2 linked regions of the Homo sapiens genome follow. The protein of the gene in region 2 interacts with the protein of the main gene of each other region in a biochemical or structural test. Each region holds a gene or a part of one and is shown on either strand. Other genes may lie near its edges.

Evidence for each region.
Region 1: the proteins of MYBPC1 (region 2) and FHL1 form a complex in vitro, tested with the Homo sapiens proteins (one study listed by BioGRID).

The regions. Positions count from the first base shown.
Region 1 is NC_000023.11:136,191,735-136,200,285, reverse strand, and holds the start of FHL1 (four and a half LIM domains protein 1), read right to left. Parts: upstream 3,240-8,551; 5' UTR 3,174-3,239; coding exon 3,152-3,173; intron 1-3,151.
Region 2 is NC_000012.12:101,646,848-101,654,671, reverse strand, and holds part of MYBPC1 (myosin-binding protein C, slow-type), read right to left. Parts: coding exon 7,785-7,824; exon of another isoform or gene 7,644-7,784; intron 6,628-7,643; coding exon 6,522-6,627; intron 5,413-6,521; coding exon 5,246-5,412; intron 3,857-5,245; exon of another isoform or gene 3,801-3,856; intron 3,442-3,800; coding exon 3,279-3,441; intron 1,995-3,278; coding exon 1,888-1,994; intron 1,558-1,887; coding exon 1,424-1,557; intron 1-1,423. UniProt on the Homo sapiens protein: Thick filament-associated protein located in the crossbridge region of vertebrate striated muscle a bands. Slow skeletal protein that binds to both myosin and actin.

The sequences.
Region 1 (8,551 bases), on a different chromosome or scaffold from region 2:
AGAAAGCATCATTATTAAATAATTTAATTAAAAATTAACTAAATTAAAGTTTTACAAGCTTAGAATACAGTTAGAAATGTGGCTGGGTGATAAAATTTTAGACATTTATTCCAAAAGGGTAGCCTGACTTTCTATGCCTGCTTCAAAAGACACATCATTTTCACTTAATAAACAAGCTTCCTTTTTCAGAAAATTCTTGAACTACATCCAACATGCTGAGAGGTGCCTAAATAAACCTCAGTATCTTAATTAAAAGTTTTGGCTTTCAATTTAATCATGTACACATACAAGTAATATAACATTACAACATTTGTTTTTTTCTTTTTTCTTTTTTACTATAAACCTCTCATTACAGTCGATTTGTATTTAATAAATCTTGCTTGTGTTTTTACATGTATTTTCTCATGTATTTCTTCCTATTGTTCATCTTCTCCCTCATGCCTGAGTTGCTCAAACTATGAATATTTAAGGAGAATGTGAATATCATGAGTAGGTAGCATTTTTCTATGTGTTTTCCATGAAGGGTGTAATGTACAGTGTAAACAATGAACAACAACCCAAATGGAAAAAAATCAGGTTATTTCAGATCTGTTCTTCACTAAATCCAACCTACCAGTACATTAGTGACTCCACATATAAACACTGGCTTCTAAAGAAAGGGTATAATGCTTTCCTCAGAACATTCAACAGATGGAGCAAAGCCTTAGCCAATGAATAGGACACTTGTGTAATAGACATGCTAATGCACCTGGAGGTGTCGTCAGACATTTGGGAATAAATACCTAAGTAGCTGCAATGAGACGGAGCTCATGAGTCACGGCTGAAAAGTAGTCTTTCATACAATTTCATACAAAAATCAGAAAGTGTTTTTTCCCTTCAAAATAGAACGTGTACAGAATGATTCAATGTAATTAGCAACTTCACTGGTATGCTGCATTTAGAAAAAAAACAAATCTTTTTTGGGTCACTGATGTATAACTAATGCCATTTTAGATTATATCGGGTGTCAGGAGGGTTCGATATAGATTATTAAAAGAAAAATTATGTGCCACTGAACTTCCTGCAGTCCAGATTCAATTCTAGTACCATTTTGTCTGTATATGAAGATTTTTCATAATGTTGCACAGATTACGTGCAACACAGCCCCTCTTTCATATGGGAAAAAAAGCATTTCTGACCCGGCAGCAAAAGAGCATGTGTTTTTAGTTTCTCCAGCTGTGGTGAAGTAGTAGGTAGTCATTTGGTGGTCATCAAAAGCACAAAATGTTCAGTTTCACTCTCACTCAAATCTTCTGTATTTTAAGAAGCCAATCCAGTTGGATTACTTTCCTCTCATCCTACCCTCTCATTTTCCATCCCTGCCCTGAGAAAAGACTGGCGGGCTTGTGCGGCCCACTGAGCAGCAGCTGGTGAAGGGAATCGATGGCTGTGTAATATGGCAAGTGACCTGATCCCCCTCCACACCCCAAACCTGGTTTTCGACTTGAAAGGCCAAAGGCTAAAGAAATTGAATCTACATAATTTTGCAGACAGAAAGTCTTCAATGTCAAGAGTATACATTGTTTTTGTCCTTGAAATGTCCTCTCAGTATATGGATAGTCACTAAAAATGGATTTGGATCCAATTATCCTAGCTTCTATTTTGCCCATACTGAGCCCGTTTCAGGGCAACACTGATTTTCTATGAGGACTTCTCTGTCTCATGGACTGATTCTTCTCTGCTTTCATGAATCTATTAACCTAATGCAATACAAAATGCAATTTCCTGAATTCAAAAATCATCTAAAAGGTATAAATAATTGGTCCCATTTAGCCACAGTTATTAGAGCCTCCAGACTTACATACACAAGAACGACATAAGAATTTGGTGCAATTTAAAACCCAAGGTTGGGTATGCTATAAACTTTCTGTCACTATTTAAACTTTTAAACTTTCTGTCACTATTCTGTCACTTAATTAGTAAACAAAATGAGAGTTATTCTACCAGGTAACATGCATTTAAGGTTCATCAGGACAACTAGCACAGCTGACTAGTTTGCCTACACCCAGAGAATGTGTATCTTGGCTGATAACCACAATCTCAAGCATTTGGTACCATGTTTGTGAAACAGCTCCTGAGGGTTGGAAAAAAAAAAAAACCAGACAACTTTTGAACACTTGGGAACAGGGAAGACATTACATATTAATTCATTAAGGTAGGGCATTCCATTGCAGCATATTTAAAACCCCAAAAAGAGAAATTTCCTAAAGTATTTCCATTGTTTAAATATTGACAGGCAATGAGTTTTAAAAAATGATTTTTCAAAAAAAAAAAAAAACATAGATAATGACATCCCTTAATCTGAAAGCTGGGAGACAGGATGAAGTGCCTTCTTTATATCTAACCGTCTGACTTTACCAGCCCCAAGAAAGGGAACCGTTACTTAGGCAGAGGGCCACAGGGCCACAGCCACCCTCCTGGCTTCAAATAACTGGGCTTTTGGCCCCTCAGCCCCTAGTTCATAGATTTCTTGTCGATGGCCAAAGGGCTTCCTTAATTGTAAGGTTACAAAACCAGAAGAAAATGCTCATGTCCCAAGGAGTCCAAAATGTGCCCCTTTTTCTGCTAAAAACAATTAATAACATACTTAGCATATCAAAAGGAACATAGCTGTTACTTCGGGAAGATTTAAAACATTGTCAGCAAAAGGGAAGATGTGCTAGGTCATTATGGACTTTCTTAGTTACAAATGTTCCTCCTTTCAGCTCCACATTCGATTTACCTTCTCCAAACACCTTGGATGTAAAGCACTGTCAAGATGAAGAATTGTATCTTATAAAAAAGAAAGCCAAAAATTCCTAACCAGAAAAACCTTTCCTCCCACAATCTCTTATAGTTTCATGAGATGTCCTGAAAAAGGTAAAAATATAGTGGTAACATGTTTATATACTTCTTTTTAAAATAAATCACTCAAACTGTTCATTGTACTTGAACAATATTTTGTCTTTGAAATAGCATGAAAGGCAAAGGCAAAACAGAGACAAGCTATAATTTATTTACTATTCAGACAAGACTAAAATCATTTCATCAAAAACCATCTTTTAGCCCAATGACGGATTCACTGCCCTAACAAAACTGTGCTCAATATAAGATAAAGAGCATGAAGTTTTACCTGAGTGTCTATGGGAAGCCATGGCTCAGAGACCAAGTTCAGGAGCAGCACCTAGACCAGTCTTCCCTCAACCCCAGCTGATAAGGCTGTGGCTCATTTGTGAACATACATTTAAGGGGAAGCGGCTAACACAAAAATAACCGAGAGCAGATGTCCCACCCCTCCCCAGAGATCACAACCTTAATCCCACTAGAAAATTCTTAACCATTTTAGGTGATCCAAGGGAGAAGAATAGGACCCAGTAAAAATACCAAACGCTACATATAAATACCTGCGGGGCTACTCAGCATCCAAATTAGCTCCAGAGCCAGAGAGGCCACATAGAAAGTCATCCCTGTACCGGAATAAAATTTGGACTCGGCTCTGGCATAGCTTAACGCTGAGCCAACCTTATTAATCCACTTTATATGCCTCAAGAGCTTGCATTTGGCCCTGTAAATAATACATTTTTGTGCTGTTAATGATAAAAGTAACTCTAAGAGATAGACTTATGTTACCAGTGTAACTCAAGGAGATTAGACAGTATGAATATAGAGATTAAGGGGATTATAGATGTTGTCACTCTATGTCCTCCTTAGTATGTTCCAGAGATCAGCAGATTACTGTACAGGAAAGGAGAGTGATCGTAATCTCCCCACCTCCTTAACGGCAGACAGCACAGAACAAGATGGGGAGACTATGCCTATCCCCATCACACACACAATGAAGACATTTTGTCTCACAAACTCAACCTCTTGTTTTTCAGCATCAGGGACAATAAAAGGAAAAACATGAATGAAAATGAAGACATCAACCTAAAATGTTGTAATAGCTCAACAGGCCATCAGATGTCTGGGGGCTGGCTATTAGGAGCATGTTCTAGGAAAAGAAAGCCCCCAAGTCCCTCCAGGACCTTCTTCCACATTCCTTCTCTGGCCTTACCCTTAGCCCCCTTTCCCTCACTCCCACCTCACTGGCCTCCTCACTGTCCCCTGTGCCCAGAGTCATGGTTGTTCCTTTCCCTACTTCAAGTCTGCTGGTATTGCACTGATTTCTCTCCTTGCTGTCTGATCTCCTGCTTTGCTCCATGAAGGCAGGGATTTAGTACTGGAGCTCACTGCAGTGGCCCCAGAGCCTAGAACACTGCCCAGCTCCCAGGAGGCTCTCAATAACTATTCCTTGAAAGAATGAACTAAATAACTGAAAAATCCATCAAGCCTCCAAAACATAGTCCCACCTGCAATCCTGAAAGTGGTTTTGGCCACTCAACTTCAAGGAAGGCAGCTGACCTTCTCGCTGGTACAGACACCTTTATAGCCACTGTCTTGTTTAAGTGGTTTTGGCCCTATTCACACATCTCCCCTACCAGGTTGAGGGCCAGGGCAGTGCTTTGCTTGTCTTCATGTTCCTATAGCACACAGTAGGTGAGCAGTAAATGCTCCATGAATAAATGAATGAATGAGTTCCCCAATTCTTACGATCTTCAAATGTTTAAGGAAAAGTTATTCTAAAAGACAACTGACATCAGTAACTCCCAGTTAGCTAGAAAATGACACAATAAAAGCCAGGTTGTTACGAGTAAATTTATTACATGTTAGAGGAAAAAAATAAGCCTGGGAAAAGAAGAGAAGCTACACTGTGCTCTGGCTCCACGCCTTTCTAGTCTCTTTCTCATCCAGCCTGATTAAATTATGGTGCGGAGATTAGCCAGTTGTAACAACACCACACCCCTAAAATAAACTGAAACTTTTCACCTAGAGGAAATTCTCTTACTTTATTAGATGATTAACCTTAATGAACCCTGAATTTTTTATTTTAGCAAGTTATATTTTTAGGAAGAGCCCATGTATGTTGAAATGCCTCTCTTGCAGCGCTGTGAACAATAGGCTTGGTGTGCCAAATACTTTCCTTTAGGAAGTCAATTCCTGTTTCAAGCTATGCATCAGGAAGTGTCTTCTTTTAGGCAAGTATGGTAGTTCTTTAGGTTTCTGATCATTTTGAAAAGTGACAACAGAATATGGATAGACAGCTTTATGAAAGTATCAAAAAACAAATCTGTTTTGCCTAAAATACAAGAGAAAATTCAAAGACAAGAGAATCACTTTTTGACCACCATGAATTAGTCAACTATGACCAGCCAGGATGGACTGGGAGCTTGGGCCTGCAACAATAGCATTTATTCCAGTTACTTCCATTTGCATCAACCAGGTAACTGTGCCCTCCTAAAAACTTCATGAAGCATGACCACTACCTGCTCTGACATCTGGCCCTACTGCAGATGTCCTCAAGCCACAGAATTAGACCTTCCACAAAACCAAGACAGAAACAGCCCCTTGCATGATGAGAAACAATTTCTTAGGAAGAATAGTTGGTAACTTTGTCCTGTCTTGGATCAGTGGCTCAGAACCCTTGCTGGCTATTTCACAGGTACCTGGAGTCACGGGTTTCATTGGCATATTAGTCAATCTTGTTATATATTAACAGTATGATGTTTAATAATATCTTTAAGAATCACTGTACTGTTTACAACGCACCTTTATATACTATTGGTGGAGTTGGCTGGTGTTTGGGAGCAACTCTCTTTGGTGTATGATGGTTACATTTCAGGCCTTCTAGTCTCACACTCTAGCAGTATCCGGACGCTTTTTTCAGTGAGTGCTAGGTATCAAACTCCCTGTTTCCCTTCCATGTGACCCTCTGCGAATCATTTACTTCAGGGTTTATCTACACATCCTTATGGTCCTACTATCTGCAGATACATTATGACCTATTATTGGGTTAACCTGTAGATAATGCCGCCCCAGCCATTGCTTTATTGTATATGACAAGCATTTATTGGACAGATGCCCTACTATGTGGTGCAAGGTATTTTACTGGTCACAAAGAATAAAATACAGTCCTTACTTTCAAGTGTAACAAGATAAATATGCAAATGACTACTATGCAAGGCAGAGCCTTACAAGTATTACAAGAAAGGTATAAAGTGTTACTGACATTTATCACAGGGAGAGATCACATCTGGTTTGGAGATGAGAAAAGACTTGATGGATGTCACGGCATTTGACCTGGTCCCTGAAGAATGATTAAGACTTTGGCATGCAGACAAGGGGGAGGGAGTGTTCCAAGAAAATGGTACCATGTCACCTAAGGTATGAGAAAAACACAGGACGTGTTCAAGAAGCAGGATGCAGCTGGGGGGGGTTGGGGTGTGACAGAAGCACAAGATAAGGAAGTAGTAGGACCGAAAGCTAGAGAGGAGGGAAAGCCACACACGGAGGATCTTTCTGCAACTGGTGCAAGGGGAGAATGAGATGGAGTCATGCAAGCAGTGATAAGAAGAGCAGATCTCAGAGAAGAGAGGAGGCAGGGAAGACAGCACAGGGTAATGCAATTGTCCACTGAGATGCAAGGAAAGACTGAAAGAATGAGAGGCAGGGGCAATGGGCATGGAAAGGAAAAACTAGATATAAGGGACACTGTGACAGGGCTACAAGAACTGAAAGAAGGGGAAGGAGCCAAGGATCTCTCTGAGGTTGTGACTCTGGGTGACTGGGAAAATAATGGGGAATATGGGAGGCAGAGCTGGTGTAGGGAAGAATGGCACTTTATTTTAGACTTCACAATGAGTTTCTTCTGAGATGTCAATAATGAACCCCCTTTAATGGGATCCCAGTTATCAAGGAGCGAGAGAGAACAGTAAGATTACAGTAGAATCACGTTTGTGGGATTTCTCACACTGCAATCTAATCCTAGCCTCTCTACCTCAGAAACACCACTGGGAGGATCAAACTTCAAAAGTTCAAAGTGGTGCAACCGAAGAATCAAACACGGCAAATTCAGTGACCCACTTAGCCCACATTTCAGGACTTCCTCATTCACAGCTTGACTTGTGGTCACCCTTCTCCCTTTACTAGATTTTTCTTTTCCTGAAGAAATTTCCAAATGGTTAAAAACTTATTCAGACAATTACTGGCCATTAGTCATGGCCAGGGGCAAGAGGCTGATAACAAACTGTAATGGAGTCTTTGTGGATTTCTCCGTGGTTTCATGTCCAGTTGTTTTTTTTTTTTTTTACATGACTCTTCTTTCCCTCATATCTACTACTAATAAATTAATAGACTGCAAGTTTTTTTCTCAATATAATTTTGTCAGGCTACTTAATCCCTCTGCCAACAATTTCTCCTGAGTGAGTCCAACTGCAAGATTAAGGCAACTAGTCATGCACTATGATATGATGTGATTCAATGTTGAGCTCTCCAGAGTATTTCTTGTCCTATGTACTCTTGCCAGAAAAAAGCTCAGAACAGCTTCAGCCATCTCATGTTCCTGTCAATCTTTAAGGTGGGAAGAGTACTTTTTCCTACTGACACGTCCAATTTTGCAAAGTCACTGCTTAAATGTCACAATTCATGGCATACCCATCAGAGAGTAAAATGAAGGAGCACCCCTGGAACCCCAAGAGGGGGGATTTGGTCATGTAAGGTCCTAATGAAAACAAACCTGAAATTCAGCCTCCCCAAAGGGTCTCTGAATCTCAGAGAAAAGGAAAAGGTATGAAAGAAGACCTGTAACAAATGAGAAGATACATGAAATAAAGGACACTGTAAACAGCAAAGCACCTGGAAAATGCTAATTAACTCCACTGAAGACCTGTTCATTTCACAGTTGACCAGGGCTTAGAATTTTCCTTATAATATTCACAGAGAGATTACGAAGCATGAGCCATGGCCCCTGTCTTTTGATTTTTGGTAATGTCATGATCAGTAACAGTTTTAAATGTCTCTTGTCCCCAAAGTCTGTGCCCTTCCTGTGTTACTACTAGACTTTTACCAAGAGGTAGGAACTATCCTAACCACATCCTACAGATACTTTATGGGCCTATAACCAGAAATCACTATCAGGAAAACACCGAACAAATGACTTTCAGAGCATGCCTAGGATGATATTTTTCAAAAAACAGAAGTGGCAAAAAAGTAAAAGAAGTAAAGAAAACAGAAACAAGAAAATGTTTTAGAAAGAGATATATAACATAAATACAGAATCTAAAATCAAAGGAAAATAAATGTTTCAGGAAACTGAGAAGCTGGTAAGGATAAATCTTTGTCACATTTTAGATGTTAAAATTCTCTTCCAGTTTATTTCTACCACCTACTTGTGACATATCTGTTTTATTTCCATATTGCCATGTACCATGACTCAAAACACCCTTTCAACCATGCTAAGTCCTGGCATTCACCAAGCCCACCTTTTATGAACATTTTAAGCCTCTGATAAATGCTTGAGGGCTAAACATTCCATGACCCTATTCTATAATTTACCCAGCTGGTTAATATCCATAATAGGAAAGAAGAACAAATCAAATAAGCTTCCATCCATACCTTTATTCTTAATGCTGATAACTGAGATCAACTGCCTTGATCA
Region 2 (7,824 bases):
CTCATAAATGTGCACTGATCTTTGCTGAATACTTGAGCGTGTTCCTCTGCAGAGCTCCAGGGGGACTCTCTGTGCAGCTCTCTCCTCCAGTATGTATAGTATGTATCCTATGAACTCTAGCTGCCTTGGTCTCCTTGTACAATGGGAGTCCTAAACTTAGGGAGTCCACTGGGTTCTGTCCAGGTTTTTCTTCCTTGTGCCACTGCCTGGATACTCTTTTATGGCAATAAGCTTGAGGCAATTATAGGGCTTATTTCATTTGTTTATCATATTTCATAGTCATTGTCTTTCACGATCTGATGTCCAATGTCTTGAAACCCATTGTTCACATATTTTGTCTATTTTGGGGGTTATTTCAAGTGAGTAGGTAAATCTGGTTCCTGTTATTCAATTCTGGTTGAAAGTAGAAGTCTCATTCTGCTTTTTATTATTTAATTTTATTTTTAACATTAAAAAAATTTGTTTTGAGATAGAGTCTCACTCTGTCACCCAGCTGGAGTGCAGTGGCGTGATCTCGGCTCACTGCAACCTCTGCCTCCCGGGTTCCAGCAATTCTTGTGCCTCAGCCTCCTGAGTAGCTGGAATTAGAGGCATGCTGCCACCATATTTGGCTAATTTTTTTGTATTTTTAGTAGAGATGGGGTTTCTCCATGCAGGCTCAGGCTGGTCTGGAACTCCTGGCTTCAGGTGTTCTGCCTGCCCCAGCTCCCAAAGTGCTGGGATTACAGGCATGAGCCACCATGCCCAGCCTCATGTCTTCTTTTTAAATGTAATTTTTCTTTTTTTGCTTTTATTTTTGTAGAAAGCCACGGAGTCACACTTGAGCTGGCACTACTCTACCATTTCACCCTCACTTGCATTTCTCCCAATCATTCACTTTGCCCCAGCCATGCTGGCTTTCCTTCTGTTCCTCCAACACATCAGGCTTATTCTCTCCCCTTGGCCTTTGCACTTGTAATTGCCTCCGTATGGAAATGTCTTCCGTTTGATCTTCACATAATGGGTTCCTTGTTCTTCACAGAGGCTGCCATTGACTATGCAGTTACTTGCTATTGTATCATTCTCTTTTATTATCTTCTTGTACTTATTACTATCCAAAGTGACTTTGTTCATTTATTTATTTAATAATTCATTTTCTTTTTCATCCCCCCAATTTCATTAGAATAAAAATGAGGCTTTTTCACTGTGCATCAAAACATGCTTTGCTACATAATAGTCAGAAATATGAGAAGTAAATTAATGATGATCAGATTTGCCTGAAAATCAGTCATCTTTCTTTTTCAAAGGAATTACATCTTTACTGTACTGCTGTACATTTATTTGTTTTCTACCTTCATCTGAATAATGGAGGGCAAGGGGTGGGGTAGGCAGTGTGTCTGCATATGTGTGTGTGCATGTGAGTGTGTGCAAGCATAAAACAAACCTTATCTCCCCGGCTCCACATGGCTTTAGGAGGTGGTTCTCCGCTGATGGGGATCTCAAGACGAAGCTTGTTTCCTGCAATCACTGTCACTGTGTTGTCAGCATCAAGACCATCCAGGATGATCTTAGGAGGATCTAGAATATTAAGCATAGTCTTTGTTATCAGACAGTCATTTCTGTGTAAATATCTGCACTAATGTTTGGCTAGTATGATGGTAGTAACCAATATTTTATCTAATCAAAAAGAATATAAGAGGAGTCAAGATAGTTGGTGCCTGGCACCTTGCAAAACCATTTTATTGTAAGGTGTTGGTATAAGTCACCAATCTTTCTGATTGGTGATTAATACCAATTGATGTATTTTTCCTTAAATGTCACTTAGTTTTGAATATATTATAATTCCATGGTAAGCAAAAGCAAACAAAAAAGAACACAACTATGCAATGAATTATTTTATCTACTCACCAATAACATGAACTTTGGCAGGCAGAGTAACATTGTAGGCATCAGGTGCAAATACATAATCACCTTCATCTTCAGTGAGGGCATTGGCTATCACTAACTTGTGGATCCTAAGGAAACAAGGAAAATGTATTTCTAAGACTCCAAAGATCTAGTTTATATATGACCCAAGCTGAAAAGACACTTGACCTTTATCTGATTAACTTCTTTAGTGCAGGAAAGAGAGGGAGAGAGAGAGAGAAAGAGAGAGAGAGAGAGAGAGGATGAGAAGCCTTAATTATCCTACTTATTGATTCAAATTAAATCTTTATTTTGGACTATATGGAATTATCTCCACAAATAGAATCTGCTTATTGTATATGCAGAGTCTATTATTCTTTTTTTTCATCTCATAGCTTTAAAAAGGCTAAAATAGAACATATCAATAATGCTATACTTTAAGATTCAAGAGATGCCAAGAATAATCTTGATTTTGGCTTTACATCCCAAACCCTAAGAACAATAGCTCTTAACTTTATTGGGGTCACAAACTAGTGAATATCTGATGGACACTATGAATCCTTTCTGTGTAAACAGTATGTATTTTTGTACACATAGAATTTTCTCACAATTTCACAGGAGTTATGGGGCTTCCTAAAGTTCATTTATGATACCCTAAAAGCCCATGAATTCAAAGTTAAACTCTTGCCTTAGATCTTTGCCAGATTCTAGGATATTATGTCCCCTACGCAAATAAAGATTTGTGGGAAGGCATTGTGACACTTATTGGTTAGAGACGGTTAATCCATTTGATCAGGTCCTCAATTAGAATTCAGTATTTTTCCTCTAACTTCATGTTTATTATTTATTTTAGAGACAAGGTCTCTCATTCTGTTTCCCAGGCTGAAATGCAGTGGTGTGATCTCAGCTCACTTCAACCTCCCCCTACTGGGTTCAAGCCATCCTCCCACCTCCCAAGTAGTTGGGATTACAGGTGCATGCCACCACGCCTGGCTAATTTTTGTGTTTTTTGTAGAGATGAGGTTTTGCCATGTAGCCCAGGAGCTCTTGAACTCCTGAGCTCAATTGATCCGTCTGCCTTGGCGTCCCAAAGTGTTGGGATTACAGGCATGAGCCATGGTGCCTGGCCTCTAACTTCATGTTTAAATGGAAAAAGAGTCAATGGATTTTGAATAGACAAAGTACCATAGTGTGAGGTACAGATACAGGATTATGAGTAGGACATGCTATACAACAGAGAAATCACACCTTCTTGCTAGTTGGAAGCGAAGAATCAGGAATAGATGATCTCCCTATGGCTACCCTTCAAATATCCTCACCAAATATGTAATTTAGAAAATGGAGAAAGTAGAAATGGGACCAAACCTCACTTGCGGGTCACCTGGCTCGCTTACCTTCCCTTGTGAACCACCTTTAGACGGTCACTCTCCTGAACAGGTAGGCCATTTTTAGTCCATTTTCCTGGTATGTTTTCAGAGATTTCACACTTCAGGCAGATTTCTTTTCCAAGATTTACAGTCTGATCAGTCAGAGGTGTCAAAATCTTCAGAGGTTTCACTGTAGAAATGATAGACCATCACAAATGCCAAGCCCAAACTCCCAACAGGCCAAGATGGTGGCATTTCACAATGGTATAGTGAGCTCTACTACAATGTTTGTTTTGAAAGTGAGAAGCTGTACCAATGCAATTAATATATTAGAGGATAATTTCACATTTGATTCTGTACAATTTCATTCCTTAGAAAAACTAGGTGAATGCAGAAAATTGCATCCAGCTGAAATGACCCAGCAAGGAATGCACAAAATCTGCAGACTCACACCTCAAACATCTATCAGCTACCTCAGTTCATCCATGTGATATAAGCCACACCCATTTACATCTGAGGTCACAACTACTCATCAGATTTTGAATAATCCTCTTTCTACTGCTTCACAACAGTTCACAAGCCACAACACTTCCAGCATTAATTCTGTAAGCAAATCTCAGGTCTTTTTCAACATTAAGTGCCATATTTATTATATTTATTAACCATTTAGCATGTGTAAAACTGTGCTACTACTTTTTACTGGGTTCTTATATTTTAAAAAATATGTCGCTGACTGATGTGGTTTGGCTGTGCCCTCACCTAAATCTCATCTTGAATTGTAGTTCCTATAATCCTCACATGTCATGGGAGGGACGTGGTGGGAGGTAATTGAATCATGGGGGCGGTTACCCCCCTGCTGCTGTTCTCATGATAGTGACTGAGTTCTCATGAGATCTGACAGTTTTATAAGGGACTTTTGCCATTTTGCTTGGTACTTCTCCTTGCTGCCACCATGTGAAGAAGGACATATTTGCTTTCCCTTCTGCCATGATTGTAAGTTTCCTGAGGTCTCCCCAGCCATGCGGAACTGTGAGTCAACTGAAGCTTTTTCCTTTATAGATTACCCAGTCTTGGGTATGTCTTTATTAGCAGCATGAGAACGGACTAATAAACCAGCAAAATTCTTGAGTGTCATACCCATAATCCCATTTCCCCTACAAACCCTATGGTTTTTACTGCATGACTTTGCATAGCATAATTATTTTTAGAAATGCACATGTTACATCATAGCAGAATGGATTATAATTGCTTTAAATGGATACAAATATCAGATAAGGATCTGTCTATGGCTGAAAGACTTCTTGATGTTAAACTAAAATGGCCACAGATCCATAAAGCATAAGGAATGTATTGGGATTGATCCTGAATAATTCAATGATTATATGAACTGCAACTGGACTAAGCAATAAATGTGGAAGTAAGATTTCTGCTCTTTTTGTGACATCATCTTGAGATATTTGCTGTTTTAATTTTTATGGCAAATTGGGAGAGATTCTGCCATTGCTAACTGACTAGAAGTAGAGGGCATTGAGGGAAGTACATTAATTCTCTCATGCCTCTGAAGCCTACTAGCAAATTAGCTCTTACAATCTTCTCAATTGAGCCCTTTTGGTTTGAATTACTTTCTTCTCATGCCAAATGTAATTGCAGAGTGTTGAATGGTTATTTGATGAATAGCTAGCTAACATTATCAGGATATGACATCGTATCTAAGTATTTATCCCCTATTTTTACGGTCTTGGAATTATAACTCTTCTGGCAGGTGATTTTTATACTTCCTTCCTAATATTGGCGCTCTACTATTAAATTGAGTCGTGGTTCCTTCCTTAAATATCCTGATTGATCTGACATAGACACTTAGCTGGAATGAAATCCATTTTACATACTTAAAAATCATCGCAAATAGAAATCAAATAGAAACTTTTCTGAAACCGAATTAACACAACCATCATTAATAAGCCCACTGAGAAGACATCTAAAGAAGTCTCACTTACAGTCAACACTAAGTTTAGCAGATGATTGTCCTCCTGTTGTCATTACTGAATATTCTGCAGCATCAGCCTTTGTTGCTCCCTCTATGATCAAGATGTGTTTTTTACCCTCAACTCTAATTCGGTATCTTGATTTTGGACCAGGGATAATCTCTTCACCATTCTTAAACCTGAATTAAGATAAAATATTAAAAAGGTTTGTAAAAGATCCTTCAGGAAAAATACCTTGTCCATCTTGCTTATTGCAATATCCTGAAGAATTTCTGGAGGATATGAGACACACAAGAACTATTTGTTGAATTAAAAAATGTACGAATCAATCTCTGTATCCATCAGTAGATTCATAATGTAACAAATATTGTCTACAAAATTGTGTTAAAAGAACACGAGCCACCTGCTCGCACTCAAGATGAATCAGGTGCAACTGCTAAGAGTGGATATTACCCCCATGTAGGCTCTTGAAGCACATTAGTAAGAATATCATTTAATGCATTTTAAAGATAACTATGATTCTCTATTAGAATGAACAATCTACACTGTACCAATTACTACAAATCCTGCTGTGTAATTTACTGTACCTTTCAACATAACATTTCATTTTAAGATTTAAAATTTCTAGTTTTTAATTTTAAGATTACTCACAAGGAACCTGAGAAAACATTCCCCACCTGAGCAAAACAAATAAACTCTTATTTCTAAAAGCAATTGGTGATTCTCAGTCTAAATTTTTTTCCCCTGAGGTACTATGAAAATAAAGTGACTAGGGGTTACATGAAAAACACATGTAAATATGTACTTAAAAATCATTGCAAATAGAAATCAAATAGAAACTTTTCTAAAACCGAATTAACACAACTATCATTAGTAAGCCCACTTAGAAGACATCTAAAGAAGTCTTACTAAACTTACTAAACACTAAATATGTTTTTTCATGTAAGTTGCCAATATGGCATAGTGAGAGGAAGCCTGCTATAAAGGTTAAGAGCATCCATAGGCTTTGGGGTCAAATAGACTTGGGTAAACTTGAGTCATCCACTTAGTATTAAGTACCCACTTCCCTACGTGCTTACCCACATAGATCTCTGGTTCTTTTTTCAGTCTCATGAGTGGAAAAACCCCAGTATATTAGTATACTTTTATTTATCATCTCTACTAACACAAATGAGGTGGAGATTGTTTTCAAAGGTTTAAAAGCTATTTGTACTTCCTGTTCTATCAACTATGAAGGTCCAATTTTTTTGTCTATTAAACATGGACAGACTTCATTAAGGCTATTTACCATTTTACATTGGCATCATCTTCAGACACCTCACATTCTAATTCCACTCTCTCCCCACAATAAGCAGTTGTATCTTCCAGCTGTTTGGTCACCATAATTGGAGGCTCTAGTATACAAAAAGGGGAAATCAGAATCATTAAATATCCAAAGCCTATCCCATGAGCCCTGATTTCTTCACAGATGAAAAACCAACAGTGAGAAAGCAACATCTATGGTTGACATGGTGATAACAGTAAGTGAGGTTTTTGTTTTTGTTCTTGTTTTGAGACAGAGTCTCACTCTGCTGTCCAGGCTGAGGTGTAGTGGCGTGATCTTGGCTTAATGTAACCTCCACCCCCTAGGTTCAAGCAATTCTCCTGCCTCAGCCTCCTGAGTAGCTGGGATTACAGGTGCATGCCACTACACCCAACTAATTTTTGCATTTGCAGTAGAGACGAGATTTTACCACATTGGCCAGGCTGGTCTTGAACTCCTGATCTCAAGTGATCACGTGCCTTGGCCTCCCAAAGTGCTGGTATTATAGACATGAGCCACTGTGGCTGTCTGTGAGTTTTGTTTTGTTTTGTTTTGTTTTCTATGTCTGTTCTTGGCAAAATAAATAGCAGGCAACCCTGGGTAAATTCTCCCAATTTTTTCACAGTTCTCCAAGTCAAATCAATTATTGTTCTCAAGAACAAACAAAACATATATCAAATATTATTCTTTTAGCAAAGAAGATACTAAATGCTAGACATTTCTGATGAAGGAGAATATATAAAACTCAAATCTTTGATCCTAGTTCCAGATGGATGACAGAGATCTCAGGGTTGTCTGTCATCAGAAGCCCTCATAAAGAAAATAAGGAAGACATGGCTGTATTCACACCCTCCAGCTCTTTTCACAATGTCTTAGTAAATGATAATTTTCAGTGTGCTTGGTACCAACCACTTATTAATGAAGCTGGTTTCAAGAGAAACCTATTTGTGATCAATTGAGTGTGTGAAACAAGGATTATCCAGTAAAATCTGTTGGGTTTCAAAGCTATAACTAGAATAATTATTTTTGCAAGATAGTGCTTGGCTTGAGTCAAAACATGAGGCATTTGTACTCAACAGGTTCTCTTTCTCCCCTCTGCTGTTCTAGTCTTCAACAAACCAGAAGACTCATTAGGATCCATAATAGCTGCCAGTGTAGAGGAGCCTCAGTTACTTTCACTTTGATCATTATCCCTGGGAGAAGAAGCCAACAGCTCCTGGTGACCACAATAAGAGATTTCATTTTTACCTCTTACGAAGAGCTCAGTGGAACATTTCTCATCACCGGC